2 separate regions of the Homo sapiens genome follow, and region 2 is linked to region 1. Evidence: fine-mapped QTL for protein levels in blood plasma. A gene starts in region 1. The other region holds a variant in brackets. All regions are shown on one strand. Distances are between the middles of the regions.

Evidence for each region. PIP is the chance, under the fine-mapping model, that this variant and not a neighbour inherited with it causes the effect. Protein levels are from antibody-based Olink assays in UK Biobank. Linkage for the fine-mapping came from a reference panel and not from the study's own genotypes, which makes the PIPs less certain.
Region 2: its variant is fine-mapped to the plasma level of the GALNT7 protein (UK Biobank, PIP above 0.99).

The regions. Positions count from the first base shown.
Region 1 is chr4:173,160,669-173,171,499 of GRCh38, forward strand. GALNT7 (polypeptide N-acetylgalactosaminyltransferase 7) reads left to right here and starts at 8,143. Exons shown (of 12, transcript NM_017423.3): 1 at 8,143-8,293. The coding sequence starts at 8,168. GALNT7-DT (GALNT7 divergent transcript) reads right to left here and starts at 8,984. Exons shown (of 7, transcript NR_134242.1): 1 at 8,196-8,984; 2 at 7,294-7,445; 3 at 5,977-6,122; 4 at 5,456-5,631; 5 at 4,310-4,464; 6 at 3,625-3,685. RefSeq lists enhancers at 5,254-5,333, 7,412-7,511 and silencers at 7,822-7,871, 7,942-8,061, 8,292-9,521.
Region 2 is chr4:173,223,070-173,234,523 of GRCh38, forward strand. The region is part of intron 1 of GALNT7 (polypeptide N-acetylgalactosaminyltransferase 7); the gene reads left to right. Among named protein-coding and RNA genes, the nearest start is that of MIR548T, 39 kb to the right of the region's middle. RefSeq lists enhancers at 3,085-3,601, 3,602-4,117. The variant G/T (reference allele first, on the strand shown) is at 5,143.

The sequences.
Region 1 (10,831 bases):
CAGCCTCTTAATTCCTGGATCATTTGGGAGAATCTCTCGCATCATCTCTCTGTAGTCTGAACCTCAGTTCCTTTATTTGTGTGTAACTGTTTATGTCTCAAATGCCTAAAAAGGCTTGAAGACATACTCCATTACTAAAATAACCCAATTTTATACAAATTAATCAAAAAACGTTCAGAAGATAGTCAAGCACAGGAATGTCCCCTCCTCTCCGACTTTTTTCTCCTGTCCACACATCTTCACACACCTCCAGGGATCCTGCTTATCCAGCTATGCCCAATGTGGTTTAGCCAAACCTCTCATTTTACATATGGCAGCATGGGTTATCTGGCCTTTTCACTGACATAGTTTCTTTCTATTCCACCCCTGTTGTGTCTAAGTTATGCTCTAAGAGATAATCAGTATTAACAAGAGAGAGGCTAGTTTGTCTTATAGGTTCCCACAATAAAGAATGTCAGGTTCTAGGCATAGCTAGATAATCAGGATCTCTGGAAGGATGTGATAACAGATTGATAACTGTCTGAAACTAGTCTGCTTGCTGGTGGAGAGGTTTATGTGCACAGACTGTAAGACGACTTACAGTAATACCTTGATAAATACCAGTTTTGAAGACTTTCAGGTCATTTAACTAACCACACTGCTGAGAACCTGAGTCTTTCTTCAGTGCATTTCATACCCTAGTTTTAAGAAATTTGAGCATTTTAAAGGAAATTAGAAATTTGAGTCTAGCCAAATCTCTTAATCTGCATATAGCAGGGCAGGTTCTCTAGCCCTTTCACTGACAGAGTTCCTTTCCATTCCACCCATTATTTAGAAGTTATGCTCTAAGAGATTATCAATAGTAACAGAGAGAGGCCAGTTTGTCTTATAGGTACTGGGTTCCCACATGAAAGATATGAGGTTGTGGGCAATGCATTTTCCCTTCAGTGAGCCAACAGGCAGTTTCAAATAGCTATCAGTTTATTATCTAGGAATTACAGTACTCTTTTTGGTCAGGTAAAATGTAGAATACTGTACCCTTCTTCCCCAACACCCAAATAAAGGCAAAACCATCTACCTATAAAATGCTTCTGCAAATCATTTAGATATTATCATATTTTAAGAGCTATTAAAGAATGCTTCTTAAATAAGAAGACTACCGAATTATAGAAGTCCAAAAACAGTACCAAATTATGAAGAGGTGGTGTTCCACACTGTGAAATCTGAGGGCTTTTAAATTAGTATTTTTACTTATGCAACTCCTTTTTCCCCACGCTTAACAGTGAACACAGGAAATATATTTTCACTTGTTCAGTCTCTTAATACTGAGCATCTCTTCTGTGCCAAGCATGGTCAACATCTAGAGACACAATGCCAAATTCGAACATGGTCCTTGCCCTTAAGGAACTTGGTCTAGGCCAGGCGCGGTGGCTCATGCCTGTAATCCCAGCACTTTGGGAGGCCAAGGCGGGCGGATCATGAGTTCAAGAGATTGAGACCATCCTGGCCAACACGGTGAAACACCATCTCCACTGAAAATACAAAAATTAGATGGGTGGTGGCGCATGCCTATAGTCCCAGCTACTCGGGAGGCTGAGGCAGGAGAATCGCTTGAACCCGGGAGGTAGAGGTTGCAGTGAGCTGAGATGGGGCCACTGCACTCCAGCCTGGCAACAGAGCAAGACTACGTCTAAAAAAAAAAAAGAAAAGAAAAGAAAAGAAAAGAAAAGAAAAGAAACTTGGTCTATATGCTCTGAGGGAGAACTTACAGGGTGCTTTGAGAGCATGAAGGAGGGTCTTCTAACCTAGCAGTGGGATCGGGGACTGAAGACAATTAGAGGTTTCTGAAAGAACTGATGTATAAATTGAAATCTGAAGGATTATCAGGGAGTTCATGGGAGAGGGGTTGGTGTAAGAACCACAGAGTGTTCTAAGCGAGAGAATAACACACACAAGGTCTAGAAGTGAGAGGGAAGTTAGCCTATTTCAGAAATGGAGAGAAAATCAACATGGCTATAGTTTAAGTTGCAAAAGAGGGGATAACTGACCAGCCATGGGGCTGCAGAGGTAAGCAGAGGCAAGCTCACAAAGGCTTTGTAATAAATGGAGGAATTTGGGCTTAAATATAAGAGCAATGGGAAGCTGTTGAAGAGGTTTTAAACAAGAGTGGTAAGAGACAAAATCCGTTTCAATCACCTCTTAAATAAATGGTTAGATCAGAAGAGCACTTCTGAATTATGGGAGTCCAAAAACAGTACCAAATTATGAAGAGGTAGTGTTCTACGATGTGAAATCTGAGGGCTTTTACATAAATATTTTTGCTTTCCAAACACTGTAGGAGACCCTTAACCTCATTAAATGGAAGCCCTTGACAACAGTCCTTTATTCCAGATGAGCACAACTCAGGAATTATCCATCTCAAGCTTATGATAGAAATAGTACCCCATGTCAGAAAAAAAGTACAAAGGCAGGATTTTACCTCATAGTATTCCACATGAAAGCACAAATTAGTCTCAATCACACATCGGCATCATAGGAAAATCTCAGAATTTCAGTATTGGAAAGAATGTTAAAGATCATTTGGTCCAACACCTTCATTTTACAGATGAAGGCAGTATACAGATTATTTCTTATACAAGACTGTGGATTCTGCCTTGGGCTCTCTCTCCCTCAGATCTTTCATGAAGGGGGGAAGTCAGCTTGGCATGTCATGAGTAGCCCTGTGGAGAAGCCCAGGTGACAAGGAACTGAAGCCTCCCACCGCCTGCCAGTGAGGAACTGAGGCCTGCCTGCTGGCCATGTGGGTGAACTTGACAGCAAATTCTCCAGGCCCAGTTGGTTATGATAGTGGTCCCAGCTGATAGTTTGGTAAGAACCTCATGAGAGACCCTGAGCCAGACCACCTTGTTAAGCCACTCTTAGATTCCTGACTTCAGGAACTGTGTGAAGTAAATGTTTGTTGTTTGAAAGTGCTAAACTTTGGAGTCATTTGTTAAGCAGTAAGAGGTAACTAATGAACAGTACACAAAATTAATAAATTCTTAACAAACTTACACTATGCTTCCCTTGATATCTAAATAGTAGTTATTTTCTAAACAATAAAATGTATCTTCCTTTAAAGATACTACCAATTGTGCTCTTCTTCTTTGAAAAGAGGTGATTAAATGGCTTATAGAATAGGTGATAGGATATTTAGTCATTTAGAGGTCACTGACTCTAATTTAACCTGAGTTCTTGGCAACCACACATAGATAATACTGAAATTTGTTTGCAAATAATTCCCTATGGCTACATATTCCCATTTTAATGTAGCTGTTTTTTTTAAATCTCCGTACATACAAAAATATGAACTTAAATTAAAATTACCCTTTCTTCTTAGTTCTAAGCAGCCTTAGTAGGATGCTGAGTAAGGGGGAAACAACAGCCTATCAATTGATGATGATGACCATATGTAAAATAATCACTTTTCTAATTTAATAAAACCTCCAAAGTTTTGTCCTTGGAAGAAAAACCTCCCAGTGAGGAGGAATAGCAATTGAAGTAAACCTGGCCCCTCTTCTAAGTTTTGTCTGCCTTTTATATTTTCAATCCCATTATTCATTCAGCATTCCATCAAGAAATACTCACTGAGCCCTTTCCACATACCAGACACGGATAACAATAACGAACTAGATAGACAAGGCTCCACCTTCATACACATTTTTATCTGGGTATAGGAAAAAGAAATTAAGCAATTACAATATAGTGGTAATCATTAGGGAAGAAAAGTAGAGGGTGCAGTGGAAGTACCTAGCAGGATACCTACCCTAGTACATTGGTGGGAAGAGATATAGGGGTGTGGAGTGGGACATGTGAGAGAGTCTAGAAAAAGCTTTTTTGTAACTGACATCTAAGCGTAATGTTAAGATGTCAGAAGGTATTTCAGGCAAAAAGAACTCCCCGTACAAAGGCCTGAAGGTAAGTGAGTTACATTTAGAAACTTAGAAGTTCAGCTTGGCTGCAGCATAGCATTGGGGTAGTGTAGCCCCAAAATGGATACAATTCCCTCTGCTGGGCTTCCCTGTAACAGAGTTGACATGGTGGAGAAATTAAAAAATAACAAAGCTTTAGGCTCTGACCTCTTGCACATTATGCTGCCTGAAAACATTTATGTTCCAGATGCAGAAGGCTAATCAGTCTGGCAAGAATTCTGAGGTTGGAAAAACCTGCTTTGAATCCCAGCTTGAGACCAGTAATACCCACAACAGGTTGTGTAGAGGTTAGGTGAAATAATAAATGTGAAGCATCTTACACACACTAGGTGCTCAAATAATTCTCTCCCTTCAGTTACCTTGCTTCTGAGCCCCCAGCTGGACTCTGAGCTGAGGACACCATGTCACCATCCACCACACATGACCCCATGACTTGGCAGAGGACGATGCTTTTCTTGGCCATCTCTATGTCCATCTCATTCAGTTCTAGTCTCTACCCTCTTCTTTAGAGGAACTGCAGCATTCATAAAACAAGAATTATAGCCACACGCACCTGAGACTTGTTCCATTACACTAATTGTACTTTATATTTGTATATGTACTTGATCTCAATTATTCCTTTTGAGAACATCATAAGGTTGAGTATTGTAATCACTATTTGGCAGATAAAAGCCCTAGGTTCAGAGAGGTACGTGATTTATCTTGACTGAAGCTTTGAATGTAGCTCCTCATTTTCTAAACGAGTTCTGTCAACCCTACAAAGGCTGCCTCCCAGCAAATACTGCAATGGGCATATGTTTTAAGGTATATTTGCACTTTTTTTAAACTTTTAAGTTCAGGGGTACATGTGCAGGTTTGGTACATAGGTAAACTTGTGTTATGGGGGTTTGTACAGATTATTTCATCACCCAGGTATTAAGCCTAGTACCCACATTAGTTATTTTTCCTGATCCTCTCCCTCCTCCCACCCTCCACCCTCCAATAGGCCCCAGTGTGTGTTGTTCCCCTCTATGTGTCCATGTGTTCTCATCATTTAGCTCCCACTTATAAGTGAGAACATGCAATATTTCGTTTTCTGTTCCTGTGTTAGTTTACTTGCAGTTTCTTTTAAAAGTTATTAAGACTCAGAGAAACATAAACTTTTACAACTATATACCTATTCATCAATATACAACTGTATAACTATATACTCTTTCACACATATTTTAAGTTCTCTGTGTAAAACTAAAGTTGGGGGGTGGTAGTGGTGGCAGGATGTTCTCAGAATACTAGGGCCTTCAAAGGACCATCCTCAATACTTTGATGATAGGTATCACTTTCCATTTGCATACTTGCCCAGCTATGCTCATAACAGTAAAAATAAAGCTTCCTACCTTCTTAAGAATAAAAAACTGTCTCCCCTGTGAAAATAACACAAGTGAAAGACTTAATTATTCAGGTGGACTTCAGCTGCTGATTTCAAATGGAATTATTCTCTTATGATCACAGGATGCCTTGTAAGTTACCTGTTTCAAGCCCAGTCTCTGCCTAGGGAACTGTCTCCTATGAAAAGGAGTCCGGGTGGACCATGGTGGCTCATGCCTGTAATACCAGCATCTTGGGAGGCCAAAAAGGGAGGATCGCTGGAGGCCAGGAGTTTGAGACCAGCCTTGACAACAGGACCAGATAATAGACCCCGTCTCTACAAAAAATAAAAAAAAAATTAGCTGGGCATGATGACTCACACATGTGGTCCTAGCTACTCGGGAGGTTGAGGTGGGAAGATCACTTGAGCCCAGGAGTTCCAGGCTGCAGTGAGCTATGGATGTGCCACTGCACTCCAGCCTGGGTGACAGAGCAAGACCTCAACTCAAAAAAAAAATAAATAAAAAAGAAAAGGAGTCCACCTCACTTCTGAACAGTTCAAGTTGAGTCCATAAATGAGCCTATTTCTGTCTTCCAAAGATATCCATATAAGACTTTTCCCAACCACCCCCCGCAACCTTGCTTCCTTTCAGTGTTTCTCCAAAGGTGGTGCCCAGATTACCTGGATCAAAATCACCAGGGTACTGATTAACAGGAGATTCCTGGGTCCCAACGCTGACCTGAATCATCACCAAGAAATGGTGCATTCGCTTTTCATATCACATTACCCAGCAGATTCATACTTCGTGAATTACACACTCTAGATCTCTGTCACACAAAAAAAATGGTCTTAGGCAAAATCTCTCATCTTCTACTTAAAACAACTGGTTTTAACCTAAGGGGCTGATATAAATGCTAAGTCAAGCAGTGATTTGTGTTTAACACTTGACAGTCCCTCTTCCAGGTACTCTATATAGTGGACTTTTATACAATATGATGTACAGTCCTTCAGCCAACCAATAATACACCTAACTACAATCCATTCTACATTTCCGGAACCATGCTGTTCATGAGGATATCACTTCAGATATTTTGTGGAAATTTTGAAATTATGGCATCTACAGAACTCCCTGATATACTAGCTATTGTAAGCCAAGCCAAAAAGCACATGAAGGTAGTTTGGTATAATTCTTTATCTATCTTGATAATTGAAATTGTTTCACTGTAAAACTTTACATAACTGAGCTTTGTTTTAAAGCAAAAAACTTGCAGATGTGAGACAGTACGAGAAAAAAGAATCAGCTGTTACCATCTTAAAACTTAGGATAGCCTAGGTGTGGTGGCTCACAGCTGTAATCCTAGCACTTTGGGAGTACGAGGCAGATTGCCTGAGCTCAGGAGTTCGAGACCAGCCTGGGCAACACCGTGAAACCTCGTCTCTACTAAAATACAAAAAAAAAAAAAATTAGCTGGGCGTGGCGGTGTGCACTTGTAGTCCCAGCTACGGGGGAGGCTGAGGCAGGAGAATTGCTTGAACCCGAGAGGTGGAGGTTGAGGTGAGCCAAGATCGCACCACTGCACTCTACTCCAGCCTGGGTGACAGAGTGAGAGACTCCGTCTCAAAAAAAAAAAAAAAAAAAAAAAAAAAAAAAAAAAAAAAAGAAAAGAAAAAAAACCCCAAAAAACTTAGGATAAAATCTTAAAACGTTTTGTTCGACTTAAATTTAAATTAGCAGTTTAGGATATAGTACACTGATAATGTAATTACATACATTCTGCTATAAAGGCATAGACATCTTTATTGGGAGATATGGGCAGAAAAATTATTTCCTCAGGGTGGGGCATTTGGCTAAACACTTGCCAATATCCTTTACTGTGTAATTTAGGTAACACAGGCAGAAAAGGCGTTTGAAAAGCAGAAATCAAGTGGCAAATATCAGATCTGAGGGACGCAATGAGGGTGGAGTTGAAATCCGTGGTCCTTGGATTTGAAACTTACCAGCCCGTGAACAAGGTTGGTATTGCTTTTGGCATAAGACGACAGCCTTTCTTTTCATTAGCTCAGGAGGAATACTGGCTTTCCAAGTGAGCTCCTCCAATCCAGTGATATTTGCACATCTCACCTGGGCCTTTCGGTTACAAATTCACCACCTTAAGGAGCCGTGTGAAAAAGCAAGAACAATCAATAAGAAGGAAAAAAAAAAACCCTTCAGCTATAAATCAGCCACGTGGAGCTGCTGCAGCAGCAGCGGTAGTCCCACTTCCTGGTTGGCTTCCTGAAAGCCTCTCGACAAGGGGCTCAGGGAAGTGGGTCTAAGGGAGAGGTGCAGACGAGAGCGACTCCAGGTCCAACGGAGGGGGCGGCGGGCCACGGGATCCCGGAGGGCACAGGCGTTAAGGACGGAGTTATTGTCCATAATTACAATAAAAGTTTGGGGATCTGAAAGCTTTAAGGAGCTGAGCTGCAGGGCAAAGGCTAAGAACCGGACTCGGGAAAAGTGCAAGTTAGTTACAAGGTAGCAGGGACTGTGAAGGGGGCTCGCGTGGAGAGCAGGGGACTGCGGATCTGGAAGGGGGCAGGTAGAGAGGAAGGCAGCCTGGCAGAGCGAGGCACACGGGTCAGTCGGAGCTCTGCGGTGGCCGCCAGAGGGGAGGGGGCCACGGGGAGGAGCGGAGGGAAGAGCCCGGGGAAAGGTGTAGCCGAGGGGAGTTCCGGATCTGGAGCTGGAAAGGGCAGGCAGCGGAGAGGGCGGCAGCCGTAGCGGTAGGGGTGGGGGAAAGAGGGGGAGGAGAGCCGGAGGAGGGGGAAGGAGGGAGGGGAGAGCGGTGGCGGCGGCTGCGCCGGGCTGTGAGTCTCTCGCCGCCGGAGGAAGATGAGGCTGAAGATTGGGTTCATCTTACGCAGTTTGCTGGTGGTGGGAAGCTTCCTGGGGCTAGTGGTCCTCTGGTCTTCCCTGACCCCGCGGCCGGACGACCCAAGCCCGCTGAGCAGGATGAGGGTGAGTGACCCGCCCGGCCCCCTCCGGCGGCAGCGACCGGCAACTTGTTTTGTTTGCCCGCGTGTGGAGGGAGCAGGGGCGGCGGGGTCGCGGCACGGCGTGGGCACCGCAGCTCCGCAGGTGGTGCTGGCGCAGCGCGGGCCGAGGGGGTGCCGAGCCCCGCGCACTCCGACCTCCCTGGCCGCCGCCGGCCCGCCCCCTCGCCGCCCCTTCCTCCGCTCTTCCCCGCCCCGGGCTCCGTCGCCGACACCCGCGCTGCCGCGGCAGCGGCTCGGGCGGCCGCTCTCCGCGCCGGGACTGCGGGCGGAGCGGGCGGAGAGCCGGGTCCGGGGGGCTGCGGCCGCCCGGCGTCCCGCTCTGGGGGGCCGGGACCGCAGCGCTCACGGCCCGGGGACGCGGGGTTGGTCCAGGCTGCGGCCTGTGGCGCGTGCAGGCCTGAAGGAGGCGAGATGCCGATGCCGCCACCGCTGGTCCGGTGGACCAGGCCCCTTGGTCCAGCCTCCCCTCCCGCAGCCGCCCGTCTGGGGGTGTTCGCAGCCCCGGGCTCCCCCGGCCCGCCCGCCGGGGAGTGGGAGGGCGATGGCGCCCCGCCTCCGGCTCTTACGGAGAGCGCGCCTCCCCCTCAACTCCGGCGGCGGGGAGCCGGGGTGCGATGCGCGGCCGAGGCCTCGCCCGGACCGCCGGTCCCCCTCGCGTCCCTGGGCGAGGGAGGGGCGGTTGGCCGGAGATGGCGGAGGGGCGTCCCCGCCCCGCCTGCCCGCCGCCCCCAGCCCTCAGCGCCTGGGGAAGCCCCTGCTGTGGCAGTGCTCGGGCGCTATCCGGGGGAAGAGGAGCAGTTCCTCTTCCTTGGCTGCGGCAGGGCTGCTTGGGCCGGAAAACTAACTTGTGTCGGCGCCCGGCCGCCCCGCGCCGGCTGCCGGCTAGCTCAGGCCGACGCCGAGGGGAGCGGCGGCGCGGAGCTCGCGGCGGCTCCGCTGGGACGCATTTGTCTGCCGCCCAGGGCGCGAGTGTTAGCGCTGACATTCCTTGGATTTGGAGGGTTTAGTCAGGCGCCTCGGAACATTAGTTACCCGGAGCCGCGCCGCGCGGGGAAGGGACCGCGGGCACTGCGGCTTCCCTGACCCGGCAGCGGGCGGCGCGCACCGGCCTCGCCCCCGACCCTGACCTGCTTCCCCCCGGATGAACCGTTGCACCACCTGCTTCCTCCTCCCCGCTGGGACAGCCAACTGGGCCGGCTGCCAGTGGGGGTAGGAGAGGGTATGAGGGGCTCACGACCGCCGAGGCGGCGGGGCTGCAGGAGGAGTCGAGTCGCTCTCTCTGTTGTAAAGTGCTTTTTGCAAGTGTGATGAGCATCGCTTCTATGTCATGTTTATTTAACTTTCCTTCTGGAAAGTTAGCATCAAGAAGTTGGGCAAAAAGGCTTGTGGCGTCCTTTCAAGAGTAAGAATCCTAGGAGGAGATCCCATTATCAGCTCTTCGCCTATATCATGAGATTAGATGTAATCTGGAAGTTTTAGTATTTGAAGTCTCTACAGCAGTGGAATCCCTTTGTAATATCTGGGATAGATTCCCATCTAAGTCATCTAAATTGATGGTAATAAAAAGTATCAGTTTTCCTTTTCAGTACATTTGCGGTTTTAAGCTTCTCAGCTCATGGAGTGATGGTGATCTTTTTATAATTTTGCTCTCAATATGACTTATTGACAAAGGATAACTGAATATTGCAATTGAGGATATTTGTTTTAAGTCATCAAATGGCTTTTTACATGTAGCTAGAAATGTTTAACCCCCTATTTTCTGGTAGAGAAACTGACGAAAAACTGACAAAACTAGCTAGGTTCAGAATGTCCCGCCCTTCTGATGATCTTTTAAAGAGGTGGCGGAACATCAGCATCACTTGCCAACTCGTGGAATATTTTATTAGTGCAAACAAAGGATGGGCCATAATGCCCATTTCAGTACTATATGGTGATGATAAAGAAGGTGATGATATCTTGATTTTTTGTTTGTTTCAGTGTACTTGATAAAGTTTCTCAGTGGATCCAGTGTAATTTCTGTCATTTGTCAAAAACAAAAGGTAGATTTTAAAGACTTAACATAATTAACATTAAGAGGAATGCTTAGGTATCAGAAGAGCAAGAAAGACCCTTTTATTGGCTTCCCAGGTAAATAGTAATACAAGCAATTTAAAGTGTAGCTTATAAATAATAAGAGCATAAATAAGGGATTATTGCCTTCCTTTAATAAAGACTAACCTAGGAGCTTTTAAGGTACAGTGCTAGAAGGACAAATCCTGTAGGGAGGATTCTGACTCCTGAGTTTCTCCTCCCCCTTGTGGTTCTTTTACTTCGATGACTATTGCATATATTCCACCCATGGTGAGATCTCTGCTTCTCTTTAATGCTGATCTACACATGGACTTTTTTGGATCCCTTTAAATAGCCTGAACGATCCAGTTTACCAGGTATGGGTTCTGCCTCTACTCCAGCAAGCTTGTACCTGTGGCTCCATTCACCCTGTGCCACTTTTTGTCTTGAA
Region 2 (11,454 bases), 63 kb after region 1:
ACACTTGTACTTAGATGGAGCTTCCTAAGGACCAGCAATCTTTTTAACAAAAGATGAGCCCTTCAAAAGCTGCCTGATAAGTGAGTGCAAGAATTATAACCATTGATACACACTGTAGTCATCAAAAAGTCAGATCACACAGTCTATTCTGCATAGGACTCCATTCATTGCCTTTTAAATGCAATAAACTTCCCCTCCCTTTTTCACACCATATCCTGCCTTTTTCTAACCTATATTAATGATTCAATACATATGGTGAATAAATTAAGTGATAGAGTTTTTTTAATTAGCAAGATTTTTATATAGCAAGATATAACCTGAGTTATACCTGTATTTCACTTTGATCTAAGAGAAGCAAATCATACTAGCTCTTATATAAAAACTCTGTAATGGTAGCATAACTATTCAGTAATGTTACTAAATGAAAAAGAACTGCACAATGCATTTTGTTATGCATATTTTCTTTAGGAATTCCTTCACTCTTGGAATAAACTTAACTCTTTTCCATAAATGAGACCCCCACCCCCCGCAGTCCAAAATTTGTCAAGCTGAATGATCACTAAAATCACCTAAAGAACATTTTTAATGTTATTTTTCTCAAGCTTTTTATAACTAAAATTTTCTTCCCATATACAAAAAGCTGAAAGACTAGTACAATGAACATTCATACAAGTACCTCCTAAATTCAATAGCTGTTAATATTTTAACAAATTTGGTTTCTCTCTCTGCCTTTCTCTCCCTCTGTGTGTATATACATAGACCTATCTGTATAAGTCTTGGCTTGATTTGAGTTTAGGTAAAACATTATTGATAAAAATACTTCTTCATTGATGTGTGTACTTCATATTGCATTACATCAGGTGGCAAATGACGTCAGGTTGTTTCATCGCTGGTAATTGTATTTAATCATTTGTTCATGGTGGTAAGTAGCAGATCTCTTTTTTTTTGTAAATAACAAACGTGTCTGGATGGTAGTTTGGTACTATGTGAATATCCTGTTGCTAACATTTCACCTAAAGGAAACCATCCTTTTGTCCCTACCAGAATCTATTGTTCCATCAGACTCTGTTGTTACATCTACATTGATTAGCTGGCCTTCTTCTGTAAAGGTGAGCATTTCTTTATCAACTGTGGGTCGACTACAGTTTCTTCTAAAAAGTTAGGGTAATTTGTAATCCTTCCCCTTTACCACGTTTCGAGTAGATCTCACCATATCGAATTTTTCCCATTATTTTTTCAGGGCTACTTTTCTTTCTGACACAACTAAATTTGCTCACCTTCCAATTTCCTGCCTCAGACCCCAAATCAACCATTTCTTCAAGGAACCTCAGTTCTTTTTAGTGAAGGATGGTATGTATAAATCAAGCTCTAAGTGTTAGGCATACCTATTGTACTTGTATCTTTGCTTCTTGACCTTTTCAGTGGACAGTGCAAGGAAATATGTGTATTTCTCTTAATCATGAGTTCATGTTAGTATTTGTAATTTAAATTTAACATTAATTTTAAAAATTATATTTGTATATCACACTTAAAACTTGCAATATATTTATTTGATTCATATATACATATATAGTTTTGAATTACAATAAAATTCTGAACGAAGTTTAAGATTTCTTTGCAATTCTTTCTGTCCCTGGGGAGTTTTTAAAAATGCAAATATTGGCCGGGCGCGGTGGCTCACGCCTGTAATCCCAGCACTTTGGGAGGCCGAGGCGGGCGGATCACGAGGTCAGGAGATCCAGACCATCCTGGCTAACACGGTGAAACCCCGTCTCTACTAAAAATTAAAAAAAAAATTAGCCAGGCGTGGTGGCGCGCGCCTGTAGTCCCAGCTACTCGGGAGGCTGAGGCAGGAGAATGGTGTGAACCCGGGAGGCGGAGCTTGCAGTGAGCCGAAATTGTGCCACTGCACTCTAGCCTGGACGACAGAGCGAGACTCTGTCTCAAAAAATAATAATAATAATAATAATAATAATAATAATTATAATTATATCTGTGCCCACTTCCCCAAGATCTTCTGAATTAGAATCCTGGAGATAGAATTTTGTCAGATTGTAGGTTTGTATTTTTAAAATAACCAATCCATGATCTCCTGCCCTAGTCAGCCTCAGGACTGCTGGAATATGTGAAATCTGTTTTACTTTGGGTCATATCTCTCAATCCTCCCTCCCCTCTTTTTTCCTTCTTAGACATTTTTATAATTTTGTTATAATGTAATTACAGAATTACTGGGCACAGGGAGAAATGTTTAAGGAAATGGGAAAAGGGTTGACTGGGAAGTAAAAAGAAAAATCAAGAATTTGCAGGAAGATGGTATAGGGAGCTTAGAAGCTACTGGCATGAACAGTAACTTTTCATAGGCTATCATTATCCTCAATATCTTCCTTACAGTTCTTCAGAAGATTTTAAACAGTAATCCTGTTTTTTAAAACAGGATTTAAAACATTATTTAATAATGGCCTAGCATTTATTGCATATTTAGCATTGCCAGGCACTCAAAGTATTTTATGTAGTGCCTCATTTAATCCTTGCAGGAACCTTATTGTGCTCATATATTAATATTCCAATTTTGTAAATGAGGAAACTGACTTAAATATATGTACTCTGCTTAATGAGCTACTTTCTAAGGAAAACACAAGTTTTATCTTTGCCACAGGTTGGGTTACCCAGGAAGCGCACTCTGAGATTGAGATTTGGATGCCTTATGTTGTTAGAGATACCTGACAGATCTAACAGAATTGATCTCTGGGGATCAATACCTTTGGAAGGGAGGAGATGCAACCACAACCACTCAGTGAAGCTGAGCTATGAAGTGGTTCTCTACCAAGTCCTGAACCAACCCCACAGAGAGCTCTGGAGCTAGGGTAGTTGTTCAAAGTCCTTCCAATTTGGAGCAAGAGGACTGGCCTTTTTACCTCTGCATTGACCCATCGCTGTGTGCAGACTGCCCCTGGAAGGAGGCTTGATCTTGGATGGGGACCCTCTTCTGCTGGCACTCTCTGCAGCCAGGGGAATAAGTTTTTTAATCCTGAAAGGGCTTCTGGGGTAGAACTGATCGCTGATCACAGTGTCCACCACATCTCCAGTAAATTTGCTATAATTTCTTCAAAACAAATTTTCTTGATAAAGACTTTTTCCCTATTGGCTATTCTTTTCTTATTTTTCCCATTGAAGAATATATATATTTAGAGGCATTTGCTCTTATGTCATTCACCATAAACTCAAAGTCTTTTTTAACCCAGTTGTACCAGCTTTTAACTCCGTGCCTTATATTACATCGGATAAACCAAAATATTTTTATGCAGTAACTTGCTGTTTTTTTTAAACATCAGGCGTTTAGCATCTCCAGTCCTCAACATTTTACTCTGCTTGTCTTTACAGCCATTCTTGAGAAGGTTCTCAAAGAGGTCAATGCAAGAGAAAGTCTTCATATTAATCCATGCTTAGGATCTCCTCAATTTCAACCCCTTCTTTGTTAAAGCGTCCTCTTTGACACTCAGCATACATCCTTCATCCCGTGATTTTCTGGTGGAGAAAATTACTCACTCTCAGCTTGCTGGCTGACTGTCCCAACTGTCTGTCTTCTGTGTGAACTTGGAGGCAGAAGGGCTGTGTGTGCTATCACTCCCTGGTGTAGAGAAACACGTCCACCTCCTCCTGCCTCTGGTGTACCTGGTCCCTTGTATATGGGATTATGTGCTCTCAGCATAAGAAATGCCTGATTTTTCCATTTAAATGAGGTGAGGCTATGTTACAAATGCACTATTTGTTCTCTTCTTCCTTTGGGAGTATTTCTGGTCTTCATTTTTATTGGAAGACCTCGAAATACTTTAAATATGTTTGTTCTATAGTTTTTAAAAAATAAATCATTTCTGAGTATGTTGAAACTCAGTACCCAGCAACATAATTTTCTTTGGTTAATAATTTTTCTAAACTGGAAATGAAATGCCTTAAAATTATGCATTTGTCAAATATGCTTTAATATGTGGTTAAAAGCCAATCTAATAAGGAAAAATAACCTAAAAATTAGTCCAACCATTCCTTTTAATTCCTTGCTTCCAATTTACCATGTATATCTACCACTTTGGAGAGAAAAACTGTTAATTTAACCTTAATTTTTAATTTAATTTAAAAATTTTAAAATGTAACTCCATTTAAAGAAGTATCTTGAGGAAGATTGAACCTGGGAGCAGGTAAGTAGGAGAGATCACTAAAGAGCAAAGTGTAAGGTAGAGCATTTGTTTCCTTCTTTTTTGTTTGTTTGTTTTTGTTTTTGTTTTGAGACAGTGTCTCGCTCTGTCGCCCAGGCTGGAGTGCAGTGACTCGATCTTGGCTCACTGCAAGCTCCGCCTCCCAGGTTCACGCCATTCTCCTGCCTCAGCCTCCCCAGTAGCTGGGACTACAGGCACCCACGACCACACCTGGCTAATTTTTTTTATTTTTAGTAGAGACGGGGTTTCACCGTGTTAGCCAAGATGGTCTCGATCTCCTGACCTCATGATCCACCCACTTCGGCCTCCCAAAGTGTTGGGATTACAGGCCTGAGCCAACACTCCTGGCCTCCTTCTTTTTTATAAGGATGTGTGCCTCTTCACATAGAGTGCTGTGTAGGACTTGAACTTCTATCTCATGAATGTCTCATGTTGGCGGAGGTCATGCAGCATGATTCTCATTGCTTTTAAGTGATGGATAATTGAGTGATTAATAATTGATTTCACTGCATTCTGTGTTTTTTGCACCTTTTAAAAAAAATCGCTTAAGCTAGGGTTTTTGTTTCTGTTTTTTAAATGCTACCCCAAGTTTGGTTGTGTTCTCAAGTGAAAAACATTGCTAGCTATGCCGTGTGTGAACTTTCAGCCTAGTCATTTTGTGGCCATAAATATTGTTTCTATGAGCCTCTTTTCAGCTGTGCTAGTCATGTGTTTTCTGTTTGTTCCTTAAATTATGTAAAATGACCCCTTTGGCAGCCAACAAATTTTATAGCTTACTATGATAAAGAGCTTCCTTATGGAAAAAATATTCAAGTTATATAAAATGTTTTCTAGCAGGTCAATTTTTTTCTGAATAAATAGTTTTAAAAACAAATTTAACAGGAAGCTTAACAATTTTTTGAAAATTTGTACAAGCAGTGCTCAATGTAGG[G/T]AATAAGGAAAACCAAGAGATGAGAAAAATTAACACCCAAAAGCTCATCACCAGAGAAAACTGCTTTTACTCTCTCTTCTTCTAGTCATTTCTATGCCCCATTATTATTTTTGCATATTTGAGGTGATGTGGTGTAAACAGTATGTATATTCAATGTGTATATTCTACTTCTTCAAACTAATATTATATATAAAGATTTTCTACAAAAATTATTTTTTGAACGTTTTATAATTATATACTATTCAGTTGTGTTAAGTTCAGTTAGCATAATTTTTCTAACTGTTCTCATTAAGGGCATTTTGTTTGTTTCTAGTAGATTGGCTAGTATACAGGCTGCAGTGAGCATTTCTGCATAATGTCTCTTCTGTAATTAGAATTGTGTCCCTAGAATATATTCACAGGTCTGAAATTTTGCAGTCAGGAGGAATGAATGCTTTTAAAGATTTTGATACTCACAGCCAGATGGCTTTACAAAAAAAACTCTACCAACATTAAATTGTTTTTACTTTTTTTCCCCGCCTAGGAGGGTCTAAGATCTTTGTGACCCTAAAAAGGTTAAGAGCCACTGGTATGTTTATGAAAAACAGATTTTATGCTTCTTGAGGTCATCACTGCCTTTTAACTTCCAGGAACCCTACCAGTAAGCATACCCTGAAGTAGATGTGCAAGAAATTTGTTGAAAATAATGATCTTAGTGAGATCTGCATGTGACCAAAATTGAGGATGCCTTTCAGGAATACTAACATGCCTTAGGCAGTGGAAAGGGTGGCCAACTCCTCTTTGGTGTCAATTTGAAAACCTTATTTTATTTACTTCATATTGTCAGTGGCAGACAACAGATTTTTGAAGACCATTTTGTGTTTTTGCAAAATCACAATAGCAAGCACGGTAGCTCAGTTTAATGGTCCTATGTGCCAAAGTGACTAGCTGAAAATAAAGTATTTCATTTTTATCTGTAGCAGTCAAGTCACATGAGATGAGTATATCATTTCCTGCATATTACAATTTATTACATCTTAATATTCACCTACCCTAGTGGGCGTCATAGTAAGTTTTTACTTCTATTACAGTAGCCTTTCCTGAGCTGCTTTATTATGAATTCTAGTTAGTAGTATTTTATTGGTTTGAAAATAAAGGAAATTTTTATTGAAATAAATGTATTGAAATTAACAGTGATTCTAAGGAATATATTTGTTTTAGCATTTAAATAGTCTACAAAGATAACTATCAATTTATTTAGCTAGAAGTTCCCTAGAAATTCTAGTTAAGGATATGAAAAGCATGGATGCCTCCCTCGACCTAGAGAGAGTATAATAGTTAAGAACATGGAATCTGTAGCCAGAGACCTTGGATTTGAATCCTACCTTTACTGCCTCCTTGGAGCACGGCTTTTATCAAGTTACTTAAACTCTGTGCCTCTGATTTCTTAACTGTAAAATGGGGTAATAGTGGTATCTAGCTCAAAGAGTTGTTGCAGGAATTAAAAGAGATACGTATGATGCAGGCAGAATCATGCTTGTTTCATTGTATGGGTTCTTCTACCTTCTCCTCATCGTATTATCGTAGTCTTTGTAGTCGTCTTCATGATGGAAGTCAGTATTCAATGAAATACTTTCTCTGATAAATTGATTTACTACTTTTTTTTTCATTTTTATCTCCATTTTTCTTGGTAAGCCTTTGGAGGTTCTGTTCCAACTTTGACAATGCTTTGACTGACACATTGGCAGGCTGTCTTAAGTGTGTGCTATAGTAACAACATGCTTCCTTTTTCATTTATTTGTAGATACCAGGATAAATGTGCTGCTTACCTTCATTATACCAGGTAAAAGAAGGGAACCTTTTCAATAGAAAACAAAAAACCTGTATGACTTAGGGTCATCAGAAGAGTATGGCAAAATAAAACTGAGATATTCAGTGAGACTTGCCAGTGTAGTCTTCCAATAAATTATTGCATATTATTTGCCAGAGCTTCACCTTTTGTTGCAAACAGATAGCAAATTTCAGTTGCACCACTTCAGCAGCTTATGTTCATCAACTGAGGTTGGTTGGAATGTGTCAGACCAGCTAAATTTAAGCATATGTTATATATTCTTTCAGTTAATGGGTAGAGTTGCTTCCTGTTGCTTAACTACTGCTATGTTTCCTTCTCTCAAAGTGCCAAAAAGTTTTTGAAATAAAATGATTATTTTAATGGTTTGGTATTGTGAACATGGTTATGGTAAAATTAGAATATTGCTTCTTTCATCTAAAAGGTGGTAGGTAGCAAGATGAAGAAATGGAAATAGAAAGTAAGGGAAAGTTAAAGTTAACTATCATATTTTTAATGTTTTAATATGAGTATAATCTGTTTACTATATAAATCAGAAATTAAATTAGGAAAACATTCCATATTATTCTGTATGAAAGTAGTGTTTTGATATGTCACTCCTAATCCTCACTTGGGTTTCATAGTGAACATTTTCATGTGTCCTAGAAAACAGACTGTTGGTTGTATTTCTGGATAAGTACTCTGTGAGGGGTTTTCTCCCTTTCTCTCACTGATACCTCTTACATTATGGGAGGGGAGAAAAATGGAACTCTGGTCTTATATATAATATAGTTAGCATGTCCTGGGAAATATAGTAAATTATTCTGTGATAGTGTAATTATCTTCTGCTGTCTTTATGGAACCAGGCATTTGATAAATTTTTGGTTAGAGTAGAATATCAGCAAAGCTATAGGAATAGGCTCAATTGTGAATAATTTAGTTTTCCTCCATAGCCACAGCACTACTTTTGCTCACAAAAAGGCAAGAGTATTCATGAGCGATAGTTTGAACATCTAAAAATTCACAGTAGTACCTCAGTTGGAACAGTCTGCTTAACATAGGTTGAAAAGCACTTTAGTCCTTACTTATGGGACAGACTGATTTAATTCTTTGTATCAAATTTTTAAAAATGTTTTTCCCTTTATTTCACAAGCTGTCAGGGGAAATCATGACCTAACACATTGAAGGAACAAAACACCTTTGACAGGCAGATCTCATTGTGCAGTGTAAGAATTGGCTTCTTTGGTGTAACTGGTTGCCAAAGATAGCCTTATAACATGATTTTAAAAAGCAGAATAAAGAGACATTAAAGTATATATTAATCGCATGTTTTAAAGGCCCCTCGAGTTAATTGTTTTTGTAAATTTCTGGGTTTCTACAAAGTAGAAGTCATTATCAAGCAGTCTTCTTGAAGTTGTTTAGCATTGTGGCCACCAGCACAGGATCAGGAGTCACAGGCCAGGGTTCAAACCTACATCAGTGGCTTACTGATTGTGTGACTTAATGATGTATGATCTCCTCTCTAATCTTTGGCTTCCTGAACTATAAAATGTGAGAGTAAAATTACAGGTCCTGTCTCACTGGATAGTTGCGAGGATTGGAGTATGTAACATACTTAACGGTGTCTAGTAGTTTTATTTTTTAAAATCAAAAATTGCACTGCTGTTGCCCCAAAAATCCATCTAAAAAACATAAGGCAGGCCCTCCTTTAAATATATGGAGGCCAGGAAACATGTTTCCTGTTGAATAACTGTTATTATTTTTGTATATGGGAGTAGAAATAAGGAAACTAGAAATGGCACAGAATTTAGGAGAAAGGAAGACACATAACAGAAGCTCTTCCTGTGCAAAAGGAGCAAAATACTAAGACTCTCCTCAATTAGAGCTTTTTAGTCTGGTTGGGGAAGAAAAACTAACATATAGGACAGTTAGAGAATTATAAAAATATTGAGTAGAAATTCATAAGAGGAAAAATATCACTGGAACTAGAGCAGATGGTGGGGGCTGAGTCTTTATAAATGGAATTGGAACTGAACTTAGAAGGAAGAGAGGAGGAAAGCAGGGCAGTGCTGTAGGCTAAGGCTGGTAAGTGAGCAAACCCTAGAGGCAGGACTGAAAATAATTTTTTAAAATCATCTCCTGAAGGGACGTGACTGACTAATGAGTACAGGGACACCTTGAGTGAGTACATAGTGGGTAACACTGAAGCCAGGCAAAGAGTTTGAGCCTGGTTAGGGAGACTTTCAGTCTCTTAAAAAAAAAAAATCCCTGACATATACTAGAAAGCAGTGGTTTTTATAAATTTTTGATTGATACATATGAATTGTACATATTTATGGAGGGCATGGTATATTTTGATACATGCATACAGTGTGTAATGATCAAATCAGGGTAATTAGGATATCTGTTACCTTGAACTTTTTTTTTTTTTAGAGACAGCGTCTTGCTCTGTTGCCCGGGCTGGAGGGCAGTGGCACGACCATAGTTCACTGCAGCCTCGAACTCCTGGCCTCAAGCAATCCTCCCACCTCAGCCTTCCAAGTAACTGGGACTACAGACACACACCACCATGCCCTGCTGATTTAAAAAAAATTTTTGTAAAGATGGGGGTCTCTCTATGCTGCCGAGGCATGTCTCAAACTCCTACCCTCAAGAGATCCTCCTGCCTCAGCCTCCCAGAGTGCTGGGATTACAGGTGTGAGCTTGTAACATTCCTTTTCTTTGTGTCGGGAATGCCTCAGATCTTTTCTTCTAGCTATTTTGAAATGTACAATAAATTGTTGTTCCCTATGGTCACCCTACTGTGGTACTGAACACTAGAACTTATTCCTTCTATCTAAGTGTATGTTTGTACCCATTAACCAATCTCTCTTTACCCCTTTCCCCTTCCCAGCCACTGTTAGCCATCATTCTACTCTACCTCGGTGAGATCCACTTTTTTAGCTCTCGCGTATGAGTGAGAACACGTGGTATTTGTCTTTCCGTGCCTGGCTTATTTCACATAGCATGATGACCTTCACTTCCATCCATGTTGCTGCAAATGACAGGATTTCTTTCTGTGGCTGAATAGTACTCCATTGTGTGTATACATACCACATTTTCTTTATCCATTCATCCACTGATGGACACTTAGGTTGATTCTGTATCTTGGCTATTGTGAATAGTGCTTCAGTCAACATGACAGTGCAGGTATCCTTTGATATATTAATTTCCTTTCCTTTGGATAAATACCCAGTAGTGGGATGGGTGGGTTGTATGGTAGTTCTATTTTTAGGTTTCTGAGAAACCTCCATACTGTTTTCCATAATGGCTGTTGTAACTTACATTCTCACCAACAGTGTATAAGAGTTCCCTTACTCTGCATGTTTGCCAGCATTGTTATTTTTTGTCTTTTTGATAAGAACCTTTCTGACTCAGATGAGATGATACTTCATTGCGGTTTTGATTTGGATTTCCCTGATGATTAGTGATGTTGAGTATTTTTTCATATATCTGCAGTATTTAACAGAGCTAAGTCTAAATGCAATATATAGAATAGATTAAATGGGAGACACTGTTGGATTAATTCAGACTGCAGTGGTTGAGGATTTGGATCCCAAAGAAGAGAACAATGCCAGTATCTGCACCAATTCCATCTTTCCTATTACATCAGAGGGGTTGTCCGCCTCCCAGCCAGGCCAGTCCCCATGACTGCTTTGGCTCCCATCCCTTCTTCATTCTCAAGAACTTTGTGCACTTGATTACCCCTTCTCTCACATGCTTTTTAATGTCTCACCCTTGCCTTTGCTTTTAAAAATCTTCAAGCTTTTCCTATTAAAAACAAACTAAATTTTCTCATTCCACTTCATATTTCTTCCAGCTGCCTCTTCATCTCTATTCATCCCTTAACAGGCAAATCAAATTTTTCAAAAAATGTTGTCTATTCTTGTTTGTATCGTTTCCACATCTCCCAACTCCACACTTCCACTCACTCCAGTTGGGCTCTTGACACCATTACCCTGCCAAAACAGCTGTCACTGAAGTTATCAGTCAGCTTCAACTTCACGTTACCAAATGCAATCCTCATCTTGCTTGGCTTCTCGACATAGTTCACCGTGCCCTGTGTCTTGAACACACTGTTTTGGTTTTTGGTTTTCTTTCCACATATTGGGCTAGTCATCTGTCTCTTCTATAGTCTCACCCTCTTCCATCCATCATGTAAGGGGTGAATTCCTCAAGGCGGGATCCAAGATCCTCTCCTTTTCTCACTTTATAATCTCTCCATCACTCGTCTTATTGGCTCTTGAGTCAATTATTATCTGCATAAAGATTTGTGCCAAATTATATTCTCCAGTCCAGACCTCTTCACTGAGCTATAAATTCTGTTTCTGTCTCCTCTTGAATGTTTCAGAAGCACTTGAAATTCAGCATATCTAAAAGGGAACTCATCATCTTCAATTCTGGTCTATTTCAGTGTTTCCTCTCTCAGTGAATAGTATCCAGTTGTATAAGTTACAAATCTTAAA